Homo sapiens: one gene and its partners. The protein of the gene in region 3 purifies or fractionates together with the protein of the main gene of each other region. This does not show direct contact. Each region holds a gene or a part of one and is shown on either strand. Other genes may lie near its edges.

What was found.
Region 1: the proteins of PHLDB3 (region 3) and DZIP3 purify together in Homo sapiens (affinity purification with mass spectrometry, with the first as the bait; one large-scale study listed by BioGRID). This does not show direct contact.
Region 2: the proteins of PHLDB3 (region 3) and GOLGA5 purify together in Homo sapiens (affinity purification with mass spectrometry, with the first as the bait; one large-scale study listed by BioGRID). This does not show direct contact.
Region 4: the proteins of PHLDB3 (region 3) and GRIPAP1 purify together in Homo sapiens (affinity purification with mass spectrometry, with the first as the bait; one large-scale study listed by BioGRID). This does not show direct contact.

The regions. Positions count from the first base shown.
Region 1 is NC_000003.12:108,592,722-108,596,221, forward strand, and holds part of DZIP3 (E3 ubiquitin-protein ligase DZIP3), read left to right. Parts: intron 1-3,500. UniProt on the Homo sapiens protein: E3 Ubiquitin ligase proteins mediate ubiquitination and subsequent proteasomal degradation of target proteins.
Region 2 is NC_000014.9:92,792,937-92,797,104, forward strand, and holds the start of GOLGA5 (golgin subfamily A member 5), read left to right. Parts: upstream 1-1,368; 5' UTR 1,369-1,520; exon of another isoform or gene 1,521-2,057; intron 2,058-4,168. UniProt on the Homo sapiens protein: Involved in maintaining Golgi structure. Stimulates the formation of Golgi stacks and ribbons. Involved in intra-Golgi retrograde transport.
Region 3 is NC_000019.10:43,487,747-43,491,246, reverse strand, and holds part of PHLDB3 (pleckstrin homology-like domain family B member 3), read left to right. Parts: intron 1-3,500.
Region 4 is NC_000023.11:48,978,265-48,981,764, forward strand, and holds part of GRIPAP1 (GRIP1-associated protein 1), read right to left. Parts: intron 3,428-3,500; coding exon 3,332-3,427; intron 3,209-3,331; coding exon 3,152-3,208; intron 3,051-3,151; coding exon 2,951-3,050; intron 172-2,950; coding exon 41-171; intron 1-40. UniProt on the Homo sapiens protein: Regulates the endosomal recycling back to the neuronal plasma membrane, possibly by connecting early and late recycling endosomal domains and promoting segregation of recycling endosomes from early endosomal membranes.

The DNA.
Region 1 (3,500 bases), on a different chromosome or scaffold from region 3:
AAAAGTATTCAGGTTATATTTTATGTTCAGTGAGATTTTATATAGTTTGTCATACTGTCTTGTTCCATTCTTATTATGTTTATTTATCATTACGTTTATTCTAATAGAGATTGGTTTACTTAGACTTTCTGCCTATATATCATCTGCAAATAATTACCTCACCCCTTCCAGTATTTGTTGTCTTACATTATTGCATTAGTGTAAGCTCCAAAATATGGAAAATCATGTTAACTTTGAACAGCTTTTTTACATAATTTAATGAGAATGAACAGTGTTTTAACACAGTATAATTTGTGCTATTGGCTTTTGATATTCATCATGTTTAAGAGATTGGCTTTTATATCTGTTTCATTCTAAAAAATGTCTGCCAAAAATTATCCAGTTTTCACATTTATATATTTTATTTTTCACTTTAAAATTATAACACAGTGGATTATGTTGCCTTTTTGTTCTTGGGATAATAATAGTTTACACTTATTGAGCATTTGCCATGTGCCAAGCACTGTCCTAAGGACTTTCTACTTACCTATCTAATCTTTATAACAACCCCATGCTGTAGGAACTATTATGATTTCCATTCTAGAGATGAAAAAACTAAGATAGGAAGGGGAAGTAATTTGCCCAAGGTCACGTAGACAGTAGTAACAATCCTATGTTTTTCTTTGCTTCAGGTTTTGATTTGCTGGTATTTTATTCAGGATTTTATTATATACCTGTTCATAAGTGAGCATTTTCAGTAATATTTTTCTTTATTCTCACATCAAATTTGAATTATATGTTACCATTGAAAAAGAAATTGGAAGTGTTTCATCTTTTTTTATGCTATGGGATAATAAGAATCATAGAAATTATCTGATCCTTGTAGGCTGTACACAGCTGTCTTGTAAAATCATTAAGCTTGATAGCTTATTTAGTGGTAGATGGTAGAAATTTAGCAAATATTTGAATTTCTTTCTTTTTTTTTTTTTTTTTTTAATATGGTTTCACTCTGTTGCCCAGGCTGGAGTGCAGTGGCATGATCACGGCTCATTGCAGCCTTGACCTCCCCGGGCTTATCTTCCCACCTCATCCTCCCTGGGAACACAGGCATGCCCCGCTATGCCAGGATAATTTTTCTATTTTTTGTAGAGATGGGGTTTCACCATGTTGCGCACGCTGGTCTCGAACTCCTGGTCTCGAGTGATCCGCTCGCCTCAGCTTCCTAAAGTCCTGGGATTATAGGCATGAGCTAACATGCCTGAGCTTGAATTTCTAGTATAGTTACGGATCTGATCATTTATTCTGCCTTTCCTTAATTGTAGATATAGAGCTTTTTAGCATAATAATTGCTTCTCTATATTAAAAATTTACCGATAAAAAGTTGCATTCAGCATTCCAGTAATTCTCTTAATCTCTTAGTAGTTTTAAATTTCCATTTTCATTCTAATGTTATCTATATTTTTTTCTTAGTTGGGCTTTCCAAGGGTTTGTCCATTTTATTCAGCTTTTCAAGAACCAACTTTCATTTTATTAATTCTCATTTTTCTTTGATTTCAGAATCACCACTGTTGTCTTTATTAATTTCATCCGTATACATTCATCTTTTATTTACTTTGTTGTTTTTCTAGGTTTTTAAAAGTTGAAGTCTTAGTACACCTAGGTTTTTAAAAGTTGAAGTCTTAGGACATCTCTCTCTCTCTCTCTCCCCCCTCCCCTCCCCCCTCCCTCCCTGCTCCCCCCCCATATATATATAACTTTCAAGTTTGGGGTACATGTGCAGGTTTGTTACATAGGTAAACTTGTGTCATGGGAGTTTGTTGTACAGATGACTTCATCACCCAGGTTTTAAGCCTAGTACCTGTTAGTTATTTTTCCTAATCCTCTTCCTCCTCCCACCCTCTGCCCTCCGATAGTGCCCAATGTGTGTTGTTCCCCTGTATGTGTCTATGTGTTCTTTCCGTTTTGCTCCCATTTATGAGTAAGAATATGCGGTATTTGATTTTCTTGCATTAATTTGCTAAGGATAATGGCCTTCAGATCCACGCATGTTCCTGAAAAGGACATGATCTCGTTCTTTTTTATGGCTGCATTCCTTAGTATATTTTTAAATAAAAATCATTTATTTTATGCCATGTATTTTATATTTTGGTTTTGTTTTGTGTTTTTTTCTTCACAGCAGAAAGTAAAGGCTAATAGACCAAAAACTTTTAAAAAGACAGTAGCTAAAGTAAACATCTCCATTTCACTTAAAAAATGTATAATAGTTTTAACCAGTCAGGTAAATACATTTTTAAATGCTAATAGTCATTTATTCATCAAATGTTTATTGAATGCCAGTTCTTTTTCAAAGAGATTAGATTTTGTTGGTGAAATAGACAAACCAGAATAAGTACTGTTAAGAGAAATAGAATACTGTGGAAACACATGGTATTTTTTAGGGTAAAATATTAAGTATCCACTTCCTTCATTCTTCAAAGATTAGCATAAAATTTCTCTTTGTGATTTTGTTGTTGTTGTTGTTGTTGTTTTGTAGGGGAGACAGCATCTCACTTGGTTGCCCAGACTGGAGTGCAGTGGCATGATTAATAGCTTATTGCAGCCTCTAGCTCCTGGGCTCAAGTAATCCTCCCACTTTAGCCTCTGAGTAGCTGGGACTACAGGCATGCACCACCACACCTGCCTAATTTTTAAATTTTTTTTAGAGACAGGGTCTTGCTATGTTGCCTAGGCTGGACTCAATCTGCTGGCCTCAAGCAATCCTGCCTCAGCCTTCCAAAGTGCTGGGATTACAGACATGAGCCACCACACCCACCTGTAAAGTTTTATTACTTGTCTGTACTTTAGATTTTGCATAGATATTTTCCGTAATTTATAGTTTCAGAAATACACCTGATGGAAGTAAATAACACTTGCTCGGCATCTTGTAACTCAAATTTAGGGCTGTCTAGCTCCTTTATTTCTTCTGGAAAAATCTAGAAAGAACATATTGTCTTCTATCCTGAATATATAATCTCTAGTAACCAGGGTTTAAGTAATAGTAGATGAATTAGACTGAATGAAGACTTGAATTATAGCTTTGACAGAACTGCAGAGTTTGCAGAATACTAAGTTTTGTAATATGGGAATTATACCGGGGTGTGAACACAGGGCTAATTGTTCATTCATTCATCTCCTGTATATTTAATGAACACTTGATGCTAGGTCCATTTCTAGGTTCTGGGAATACAGCAATGAATCAAATAGACAAAAATTTCTGCCCAAGTTGTTTTCTTATAATGGAGGATATAGACAATAAGGCATATAAGTAAAATTACATGAATGATAGCGGTAAGTATTAGGGAGTGAAAAAAGGGAGGAGGAATAGGAAGTATCAAAGTCAGGATAAGGTGTTACAATTTTAGATAGGATGGAGTACTAATTGATGTATGCCAAATAACAAATCACCTCAAAACACAGTGGTTGAGACCATGAGCGTTTATTTCTTGCCCACAGATTTGTGGTTGACTGCAGTTTGTCTGCTC
Region 2 (4,168 bases), on a different chromosome or scaffold from region 3:
AAAATTTCTCTGGTTGAAATACGTAATAACTGTTAATACTACTGCTCAGAAAGACCCCCTGCCAAAAGAAGATCATACAATCAAGCCTGACATCAGTGAGGCTGGAAAGAATGCTCCTCCTACAGGATGCACTGCAGTCGCATGGCAACGGGCGATGATGTGTAATCCTTAACTGGAAAAGCAACTTAATAGTTAGGAACAACAATACCACCTACCAGAGAATAATAGTACCTTCCTTATGCATGTGAGATTAAAATGAAGTGAGGCACATGCAATGCTTAACACAGTATTCTACACTTAATAAAAGGTTTGATAAATGTTAGATGCCATTATTATGATTACCACCTCCTGGTGCTGCTGAAAATTTTTCTCTTCACCGTACTGGGCTAAACCTCACCTGAGAGCAATAAAAGCAGGAGCTGTAATTACTTCCAATATTTAATTTGGAGACAATAAAGCTTTGAGTCTACGAGGAATAGGCTTTGGAGTAATGTGGACTCCTTATTAGGACAGATGATCTTAGACAAGTTATTTAAACTGTTTGAACCTTACTTTCCTCAATTCAAAGATTTGAGACTTGGAACTGTGTTGTAGGCTTGTCATTAGGGCCAAGTTAGCCCAATCCTGTACACATAGTGGGTGCTGAGTATTTGAATTAGTGAATGTGGATTTTAGACTTATTTCAGATAGTCAATGAACTGTATGCATAACATAACCACAATACTGCCTTTTCCATCCTTTGGGTCTCAGCTCAAATATCATCTTCTCAGAGAGACCTTCCCTGACCACCTGATTTAAAGTACCTCCCGTGCCTCCAGTCACTTTTCCCCGTTTTCTTGTCGTTACAACTCTGGTAACGCCCTGAAATTGTCTTGTCCATTCACTGTTACGTAATATCTGTCTCTGCCACTAGAAAGTAAGCGCCATGCAATCCGGATCATGTTTTCTTATTTCCACCTTCTGCCGTGGACCTCTGGCATTCTCGTCTGTAAAACTTAGGGGAGATGGTGAGGAAAGGGAGAAACACGAGGTCTAGCCGGTCCACCCGGGTCTCAAGCCCCGCCCAACTCAGGCCTCGCGTTCCTTCCAGGCTGGGCACCGCCTTTGGTCACCCACGTGGCCCGCAGTAAGGCCCCGCCCTTTGTGGGTGTGGCCTTTCACGGCGTGCGGGCCGTCCACCGGCGGCGAGCCACGTCACACGCACGCAGGCCATGCGCCGCGCCTGTTCTCGCCGCGGGCGGAAAAGGGGCGTGGCCATGCGCGAGGACCCCGTAGCCGCCAGCGCCACCGCCTGAGTCGCCTGCAGGTGGCTGTTCGCGTCTCCCTGCCGTGCAGGCAGCTCGAAAGCCACTCTGTTGTGGGGTCCTCGCTTCCCTTCCACGTCTCCCGGAAGCGGTAGCAGGGCCCCGGCGGGTCGGGGAGGAGGTTTACTCAGCTTGGGCCCCCTCCGGGCCAGCCGCCGAGGGGGCGCGGCCCAGGACGGCGGCTAGGCCGTAGTGCAGCCTCTCCGGAGTCCTCAGGTGAGGCGGAGGCGAGGGCCCACTGGACGAGACGGGGGTGTTAACGGTCCTAGGAGCGGGGGCGCAGTCCCTTCAGTGGAGACCCTGGTCTCTCCGTTTTCTTTCGGGTCGCGCTCATCTTCGCCCTGTTAGGGGCTGAGGAGGGTAACTGGAGAGACTCCTTGGGCTTCAGCCGACGTCGTTTACTGCCCTCCTCTGTCTTCCTTTCTCCTGACCCCTGCCTGGCCTGGCCGTTCTTCCCGCACGGAACGAGATGGGTGGGGAGCAGAGTGGGGGTCTCTGCTCGCTTACCTGAGATTCCCCAAACTGACAGACCCCAGGGCTCTACGGACTGGGCCTGACCGACTGACCTCCAGCCTCCCTCCCTCTGTGCTGACGCCTGGCCTTCGAAGCAGGCCCTGCCGCAGCCCTTTGCAGACCCATCCCCATCCCACGCACTCTCTGCCCCTGGGCAGTGTCTGGGGAATTGACGGGTGCCTCTGAAGTCCTTCGTGTCTTTGAGATGTTTGCCCAGGGCCCATCTAAGTATTTAATTAGGTAATCGACATTAATTGCAACATTAGTAGCAGTTGCATGGTATGTTTTAAAGCCCAATTAATTTTGAAATGGGAGGCAAGATATAAAGAATTAATGAGCGTGTTTTGATTTTTTATTACTTTTTTTGTAGAGACAGGGTCTTGCCATGTTGCCCAGGCTGGTCTCAAACTCCTGGCCTCAAGTGGTCCTCCCCGCTCGGCCTCCCAGTGTGTTGGGATTACAGGCGTGAGCCACAGTGCCTGGCCTGTATGGTGTTCTGTATGTTACAGAGCATTTCATCTCCATTTTCATTTGATTTTTTATAAACTCCGAAATACATAGGCATTTAATAGTCACATGTGTAAAGAACAGATTTAAAGGATGAGTTTCTTCTTGAGGTTTTTTAGATTTTGAGCTGTATGGTATAGGGAGGCAAGGGTTAAAAGTAGGTTTGGCACTAGGGTAACTTAGACTTGAGTATCTGAGCTGCTGTCTAAACTCTGGGATCTTTCTAAACCCTTTCCACATTTGCTTTAAAAAAAGGATATTGCTGTTTACCACATAACGTGGCTGTGAAAATTACATGTGATAAAAGATACATGTGTACCTGTGTACAGCATCAGTCATATAAAAATTCCACTCAGCAGTATTTGTGAGTGCCTACTGTGTGCTAGACTCTGGGAATTCATTGGTGAGCAAAACAGACATAATCTTTATCCAGCCACTGCCCCACTTTCCCCAAGAACAAGAAGCATGTTAAAAAAATACGTAATTATAAAACATGAAGGACTGTGAAGCAAAAGAATAGGGTATGTACAGATAATGATTGACCTAACTTAGCTGGAAAGGAGAACTCTGAAGCAAATGACATTTGAGTGAAGACCAAGAACAAGAAAGTTAACCATGAAAGAGTTCTTGGCAAAAGGAACAACGTGCACATTCTAGAAATGGTTGTGGACTTTATTATAGAGCCCTTCTGTATCTATATCTTCATCATTACTTTGATGTATTGTGGCACACAATAAGTACTCAAATATATGTATGGAATGAGTGGTTATGCAATTTTGGTTTTTATTCTGGACTTAGCTTAATGTGCACATGGTAGGTATTGAGTATGTGAATTATTGAACATGTACTTTAGATAAATTATGTGCACACCTAAATTATATGTAATAGTGCTGCAGTTTAACATTAAGATAGCTTTTGTATTTAACGGAAACGTTTTTTCAAGTTTTAGCACTTTAAAACAAACTTCAGTGAATTTTATTTTTATTTGGTTGTACTGGAGTTTTGCCATATTGGTTATTTGCTGTTTGGATGTTGTTTTAATTTGCTGCTGTAGCAAAGTACCACAGATTGATTGGCTGGGCCAACAGAAATTTATTTTCTCTCAGTTCTGAAGACTTGAAGTCCAAGATCAAGGTATTGGCAGAGTTGGTTTCTTCTGAGGCGTACTTCTTTTGCTTGCAGATGTCTGCCTTCTCCCTCTGTCCTTTCTGTATGCCTGTTTGTGTTGAAATTTCCTCCTCTTAGAAGGACATGCCAATTATATTTGATTAGGGGCCACCCTGACGACTCATTTTAATTATCCTTTTAGAGATCCTATCTCCAAAAACAGTCACATTCTGAGGTCTGGGGGTTAGGACTTAAATAAAGGAATTTGGAGGGATGCAGTTCAGCCCATAACAGATGCTTTTGCTACATTAAGATTTGCCCGGCCGGGCGCGGTGGCTCACGCCTGTAATCCCCGCACTTTGGGAGGCCGAGGCGGGTGGATCATGAGGTCAGGAGATCGAGACCATCCCGGCTAACAAGGTGAAACCCCGTCTCTACTAGAAATACAAAAAATTAGCCGGGCGCGGTGGCGGGTGCCTGTAGTCCCAGCTACTCGGGAGGCTGAGGCAGGAGAGTGGCGTGAACCCGGGAAGCGGAGCTTGCAGTGAGCCGAGATTGCGCCACTGCAGTCCGCAGTCCGGCCTGGGCGACAGAGCGAGACTCCGTCTCAAAAAAAAAAAAAAAAAAAAAAGATTTGCCCTTCTTTGAAATAGTAATAATAAAAACAGTAATTTATTATTACTTTGAAATAGTAATAATAAATAATAAAAATAGAAATAATAATAAAAACAGTAGTG
Region 3 (3,500 bases):
CTTTCTGGCTGCTTCCCCTGGAAACCTGATGAAGGTAGGTGTCAGCTGTGTTGCCAGGCAACGTGACTTAGGATAGCAATTACCCTTATTAGTAAATTGCATATATGAAAATATTTGGTGGGACGCCATGTCCAGTCCTATGGAGTTGTCACCTGACTTGTTGGCCCCTGTGCACAGAAGGCCTCTAAGCCCAGGTGCACCCTGTACCCACCAATGTGGATCATTGCTTAGCTCCTGGATCTCACCTGGGGGCCATGCATGCTTCTACATGCATTGCAGGAGGTCACTCATTTAATCCTTGCAACAACCCAGGAAGGGCAGTGAGATGTTACCCACTTTACAGAGAGGACACCTCGCTTGAGAAGAGAAATGACTTGCCTACGTCATGCACCCAGGAAGTGGCAGAGCTGGGATTTGAACCCGAACCGGCCTGTTTCTATGGCCTGCTGATGGCTTATGCAGTTCCTACAACATAAGTGCCCTGCAGACAAAGCTGGGGTCTGACCTGCCCACTTGGTTCCTCAGTGCCAAGTATCTAATATCTCCCAGCTAGGAAGTGCTGGGAATGTGGCTGGAAGGAAGGAAAAAGTCAAGTAAAGCACGGGGATTTGAGCCTCAGTTTCTTCTCTGTGAAGTGGAGCTAACATTTCTCAACTCCCAGAGTTTTTATTTTTTTTAGTTTTCAATTTTTGAGACAGTCTCGCTCTGTCGCCCAGGCTGGAGTGGAGTGTAATGGTGCGATCTTGGCTCACTGCAGCCTCTACCTCCCAGACTCAAGCGATTCTCCTGCCTCAGCCCCCCAAGTAGCTGGGATTACAGACATGCGCCAGGCTAATTTTTGTATTCTTTGTAGACATGGGGTCTCACTATATTGCCCCAGTCTGGTCTCAAATTCCTGAGCTAAAGTGATCTGCCTTCCCTGGACCTCCCAAAGTGCTAGGATTACAGGTGTGAGCCTTCATGCCTGGCCCATTATTTTCTTACCCATGATTCCCCTTAACCCCTAAATATTCCTAAATTTACTACCTAATGTCAAGCCCATTCTCTTACACAACCACAGTTCAATGATCGATTTCAGGAAACTACCACTGAGACAACACTATTAGAATCCACAGACCTTATTTGTATTTTGTCAGTTGTTCCACCAATGTTTTTCCCTCCCTCCCTCCCTTCCTCCTTCCCTTCCTTCCTTCCTTCCTTCCTTTTTCTCTCTCTTGCTCTTTCTTTTTTTTTTTCCTTTTTGGCAGAGTCTTGCTCTGCCGCTCAGGCTGGAGTGCAGTGGTGTGATCTCGGCTCACTGCAACCACTGCCTCCCTGGTTCAAGTGATTCTCCTGCCTCAGACTCCCGAGTAGCTGGAATTACAGGTGCCCACCACCACGCCCAGCTTATTTTTGTATTTTTAGTAGAGACGGGGTTTCACCATGTTGGCCAGGCTGGTCTCGAACTCCTGACCTCAGGTGATCTGCCTGCCTCGGCCTTCCAGAGTGCTGGGATTACAGGCATGAGCCACTGTTCCTGGCCCCACCAGTGTTTTTTCTAGCAAAAAATTCACAAAAAAAAACAAACTTTTTTTTTCTTGGCTCAGGAACACAGGTTGCATTTAGTTGTCATGTTTATTTGCTTTTAAAAAGTTAACATTCTCCTCGTTCAAAATTCACATGGTGTGGGAGGATATTCAGAGAAGACTCTGCGGCTCTTGTTCCCCCTCCTACGCTGTTCACTTCCTGAGGGCCACCAGGGTTACCAATTTCCCATGTGTTCCCCAGAGATATTCTGTGTTGACACAGCTAGTCATGTATGTACTTTCTCCCTCTTTTATGCATACCTAGTTTATTCTATGCTGTTCTGTACTCGCTTAAAAAAAAAAAAAAAAAAACTTTAAGAGATAGATCTCACTGTCGCCCAGGCTGGAGTGCAGTGGCATGATCATGGCTCACTGCAGGGTCAACCTCCTGGGCTCAAGTGATCCTCCCACCTCAGCCTCCTGAGTAGCTGGGACTACAGGTGCACGCTACCACACCTGGCCTTGGTTTTCTCTTGGATATTATGTTCTGTTTTTTTTCTTTTCTTTTTTGGATATTATGTTCTACCTGGATGTAGGATGCATCTTCCTCTTGTTCTACACTGCAGAATTGTCCTTAGAGTCACTTGGGTGCGGTGGCTCACGCCTGTAATCCCAGCACTTTGGGAGGCCGAGGCAGGTGGATCACTTGAAGTCAGGAGTTCGAGACCAGCCTGGCCAATATGGTGAAACCCCATCTCTACTAAAAATACAAAAATTAGCCTGGCGTGGTGGCACATGCCTGTAATCCCAGCTACTCGTGAGGCTGAGGCAGAAGAATCGCTTGAACCCAGGAGGCGGAGGTTGCAATGAGCCGAGATTGTGCTACTGCACTCCAGCCTGGGCAACAGAGTGAGACTCCAACTCAAAAAAAAAAAAAATGGTCTATGGAGTGCATAAGCCATGGTTCATTTACCTTGTCCCCTTCTGATGGGCATTTAGGTGGTCTCCAGGCTTTTGCTAGCACAGATGGCACTGCAGGGAATCACCTTGAACTCAGATCACTTTGCATGTGTATGAGTGTATCCATCCGCTGAATTTCTAGAATTGGAATTGGGGCTCCATGGTTTATGCATTTGTCATTCAGATTTTTTTTAAAAAAGCCAAGTTGCCCTCCATAAAGCTTGTTCCAGTAGAACACCCCCAGTATCATGTGAGGGCATCTGGGTTTCCTACATAGCCACCAGCACGGTGGGTTTTTTGTTTTTTTGTTTTACTTATTTTTTTTGAGACAGGCTGTCACTCTGTCGCCCAGACTGGAGCGCAGTGGCACAATCTCAGCTCCCTGCAACCTTGACCTCCGGGGTTCAAGCGATCCTTCCACGTCAGCCTCCACAGTAGCTGGGACTGCAGGCACGTGCCACTATGCCCAGCTAATTTTTCTATTTTTTTGTAGAGACAGAGTTTCACCATGTTGCCCAGGCTCATCTCCAACTCCTGGGCTCAAGCAATTTGCCTGCCTCAGCCTCAAAGTGCTGGCATTATAGGTGTGAGCCACTGCGCCTGGCTGCAGTGGGACTTTTTTTTTTTTGCGACAGAGTCTCGCTCTGTCGTCCAGCCTGGATTTCAGTGGCGAGATCTCGGCTCACTGGAACCTTTGCCTCCCAGGTTCAAGCAATTCTCCTGCCTCAGCCTCCTGAAAAGCTGGGATTACAGGCATGTGCCACCACACCTGGCTAATTTTTGTATTTTTAGTAGAGACGGGGTTTCACCATGTTGGCCTGGCTGGTCTCAAACGCCTGACCTCAAGTTATTCACCCGCCTCGGCCTCCCAAAGTGCTGGGATTACAGGTGTGAGCCACCACACCTGGCCCACAGTGGGATTTTTAGAAAGAGTTTTATTGAGGCATAATTCACGTCCCTATACAATTCATTCATTTAAAATGTACAGTTCTGTGTCTTTTAGTATATTCAACGTTGCGCAAACATTACCACAAT
Region 4 (3,500 bases), on a different chromosome or scaffold from region 3:
TGAGAGAAGCTGGAGCTGTAGGTTCTTCCTTTCCCCTTACCCTGGCTGGAACAGCCGAGCTCTCCTTTTCCCGCAAGATCTCCCGGTAGCTGAAGGAGGAGATGCTACTGCTGTCCCCTGTCTGGGTCCGGCTTGGTGAGTTCATCTCTGAGAGAACCAGCTCCTCAAGGCCTGGGTGGTGGAGGGAAGAGAAACTTGAGCCCCAATACCCCTGAGTCCCAGGGCAGCAACCAGCAGGAAGAGGCAGAAATAGATTTAACAGAGATGGAAAGAGAGACACCTGGGCATGGGGAAAGGCAGAAGCAGACAGGAGGACAGGGAGAGACAGAGACAGAAAAAAGAGCTGAGGCTGGGCGCACTGGCTCACACCTGTAATCCCAGCACTTTGGGAGGCTGAGGTGGGCTGATCACTTGATGTCAGGAGTTCGAGAACAGCCTGGCCAACATGAAGAAACCCCGTCTCTACTAAAAATACAAAAATTAGCCAGGTGTGGTTGTGTGTGCCTGTAATTCCAGCGATTCAGGAGGCTGAGGCAGGAGAATCGCTTGAACCCAAGGAGGCGGAGGTTACAGTGAGCCGAAATCGCACCATTGCACTCCAGCCTGGGTGACAGAGTGAGACTCTTGTCTCAAAAAAAAAAAAAAAAAAAACAGAAAGAAAAGAAAGAGCTGCCTTTCTGGAGAAACACATACAAAATGAGAGGGAGAAAATGGAAGAGGTTGGAGAAAGAGAACGACATGGGTACACATGGGTCTCAAGTGGCAGACACACTTGGACACAGGGTTCAGAGAAAGGAAGACAGCTAGAGAGGGCACAGGGCACATCCACTTGCAGAAAGAAAATGCCAGAGATGGAAAGCCAGAGCAGATGATAGAAACTGAGACCCTGGTGAAAGAAGTGAGCCAGAGCAGAGACAGAGAGAAAAAAAGATGCCGGGCGCGGTGGCTCACGCCTGTAATCCCAGCACTTTGGGAGGCCGAGGCGGGCAGATCACGAGGTCAGGAGATCGAGACCATCCTGGCTAAAACGGTGAAACCCCGTCTCTACTAAAAATACAAAAAATTAGGTGGGCGTGGTGGCGGGTGCCTGTAGTCCCAGCTACTTGGGAGGCTGAGGCAGGAGAATGGTGTGAACCCGGGAGGCGGAGGTTGCAGTGAGCCGAGATCGCGCCACTGCACTCCAGCCTGGGCGACAGAGCGAGACTCCGTCTAACAAAAAAAAAAAAAAAAAAAAAAAAGAAATGCAAGCAGGCTCTCGTACCCACGCACCTAAATCTCAGTTTAATCTAATGGACAAGGTGAATGTATTGAATGTATGGTATACGATTGTAACGTTTCCCAAGATTATTATTATTATTATTTTTTAGACAGAGTTTCAGTCTTGTCGCCCAGGCTGGAGTACAATGGCGCAATCTCGGCTCACTGCAACCCCTGCCTCCTGGGTTCAGGCAATTCTCCTGACTCAGCCTCCCGAAGTAGCTGGGATTACAGGCGCCCGCCACCACACCCAGCTAATTTTTTGTATTTTCAGTTGAGACGGGGTTTCACCGTGTTGGCCAGGCTGGTCTTGAACCCCTGACCTCAGGTGATCCACCCACCTTGGCCTCCCAAAGTGCTGGGATTACACCTTTCCCAAGATTCTTACATTCATCTGTGATAAAACAGAAACAAAACTCCTTTTTAAAGAAAGGTTACTTCAGGAGACCGAGTGCCTCAGAGAGAAATTGATTTGGTGAGAGATACACATCTGTTTTGCCACATCACTTAAAGCCCTCGAGGATCTCTGGCAAGGGTGGGGTGACTGAGTGGGGATCCGTAGGTATCCCGAGTGGGGGAATAAGGGACCAAGTTTTCTCTGAGTCTGTAATCTAAGAGATGCACCAGAGCCATCACTGCATTTTACTTACTTAAATGTATTTATAGGCCATCCCCGTCTTAAAAAAGGCTGAAGCAACTAAAGTTGTGTGTGTGTGTGTGTGTGTGTGTGTGTGTGTGTGTGTGTCTTCTGCTTGAAGTGGCAGAAATAACAGATTGGATTAGCTGTATAATGAAAACACCACAGCGTTGCTGACTATGTATAAGTCTGTCTCCGTAGCTCAACTGGGGGCTTCTAGAGGGCAGAGACTCAGGGAGTTTTATATCAGGGACCCTGTACTTGAGCAGGGAGATTTATAGAATGAGAGATTGTATACAATAGATTTAGAAATGCCAAGTGAGGTGTGGGAGTGTGTAATGTAGTACATACAGTGAGGAGACAGACAGAGATATAAACAGAAGAGACGAAGAGGACACAGAGTGGCGGGAAGAGATAAAGGGACAGAGAAAAGAAAGGGCGGGGGCCGGGCCCAGTGGCTCATGCCTATAATCCCAACACTTTGGGAGGCTGAGGCGGGCGGATCACCTGAGGTCGGGAGTTCGGGACCAGCCTGACCAACATGGAGAAACCCCGTCTCTACTAAAAATACAAAATTAGCTGGGCGTGGTGGTGCATGCCTGTAATCCCAGCTACTCAGGAGGCTGAGGCAGGAGAATTGCTTGAATCCAGGAGGCAGAGGTTGCGGTGAGCCGAGATCACACCATTGCACTCCAGCCTGGGCAACAAGAGCGAAACTCTGTCTCAAAAAAAAAAAAAGAGAGAGAAAAGGAGAAAACTAGAGAAAGAAAGCAAGGAGATAAAGGCAAACATAGAGGAAAGAGAGAGAACAAACTGAGACAGAGGCAGAGACAGAAACAGAGAAGAGACAGGGCAAAAACGAGAGAAAGATAGAAATAAAGAGAGAATGCAGAGAAAGAATCAGAGGAGAGACAGAGAAAAGGTAAAAGATGGAGTTCCAGAGCGACAGAAGCAGGAAAGCACAGCTGAGGAAGATGCAGGACTAACCTGCAGCCTGCAGGCCCAGGCCCTACCTCCCCCATGCCTCAGCCTCCTCTCCCTGTCCTAGTCCCTCACCTGAGCGGCTCTTGCTGTTAGTGAGGATGTCCTGCAGTCGCTCCTGCAGCTTATCTGCCCGTTTCCGCTCCAAATGCAGCTGCCGCTTGAGGTCCTTGAGCTGTGGGGGACAGGGGTAACATGAGGACTGAGGCCCAGTGGGCCCATAGGAGGGAGGCTACAGGTAGGAGGGAGCCGTGCTTGGGCACCGCTCTGTCTTACCGCAGCACTGCCCTTCTTCTCCAGGATCCTCTGCCCATCCACTGTGTCCTTCACCTCCTGTGGGAGAAAGCAGGCATGGCTGGTAGATGCCGGAAGGGCTGCCTGAAGCATGCTCCCTCCCTGCCCCTCCTGTACGCTGAGGATCAGGGGTGTGTCTGGGGCTGTGCAGTGACCACTGACCTGCTTCAGGCTGCTAATGGTCTTCAGGTGGCAGTCCCGCTCCTCCTGGGCCTGCTCGAGCTGATCCCGTACATCCTGTAGCTCCTCCTCCTTGCCCTGCAAAGCAGAAAGCAGCTTAGGCATTGGCTTGGGAAGCCTCTGTCCTCCCAGGAGGGCCCGTCACTGTCTG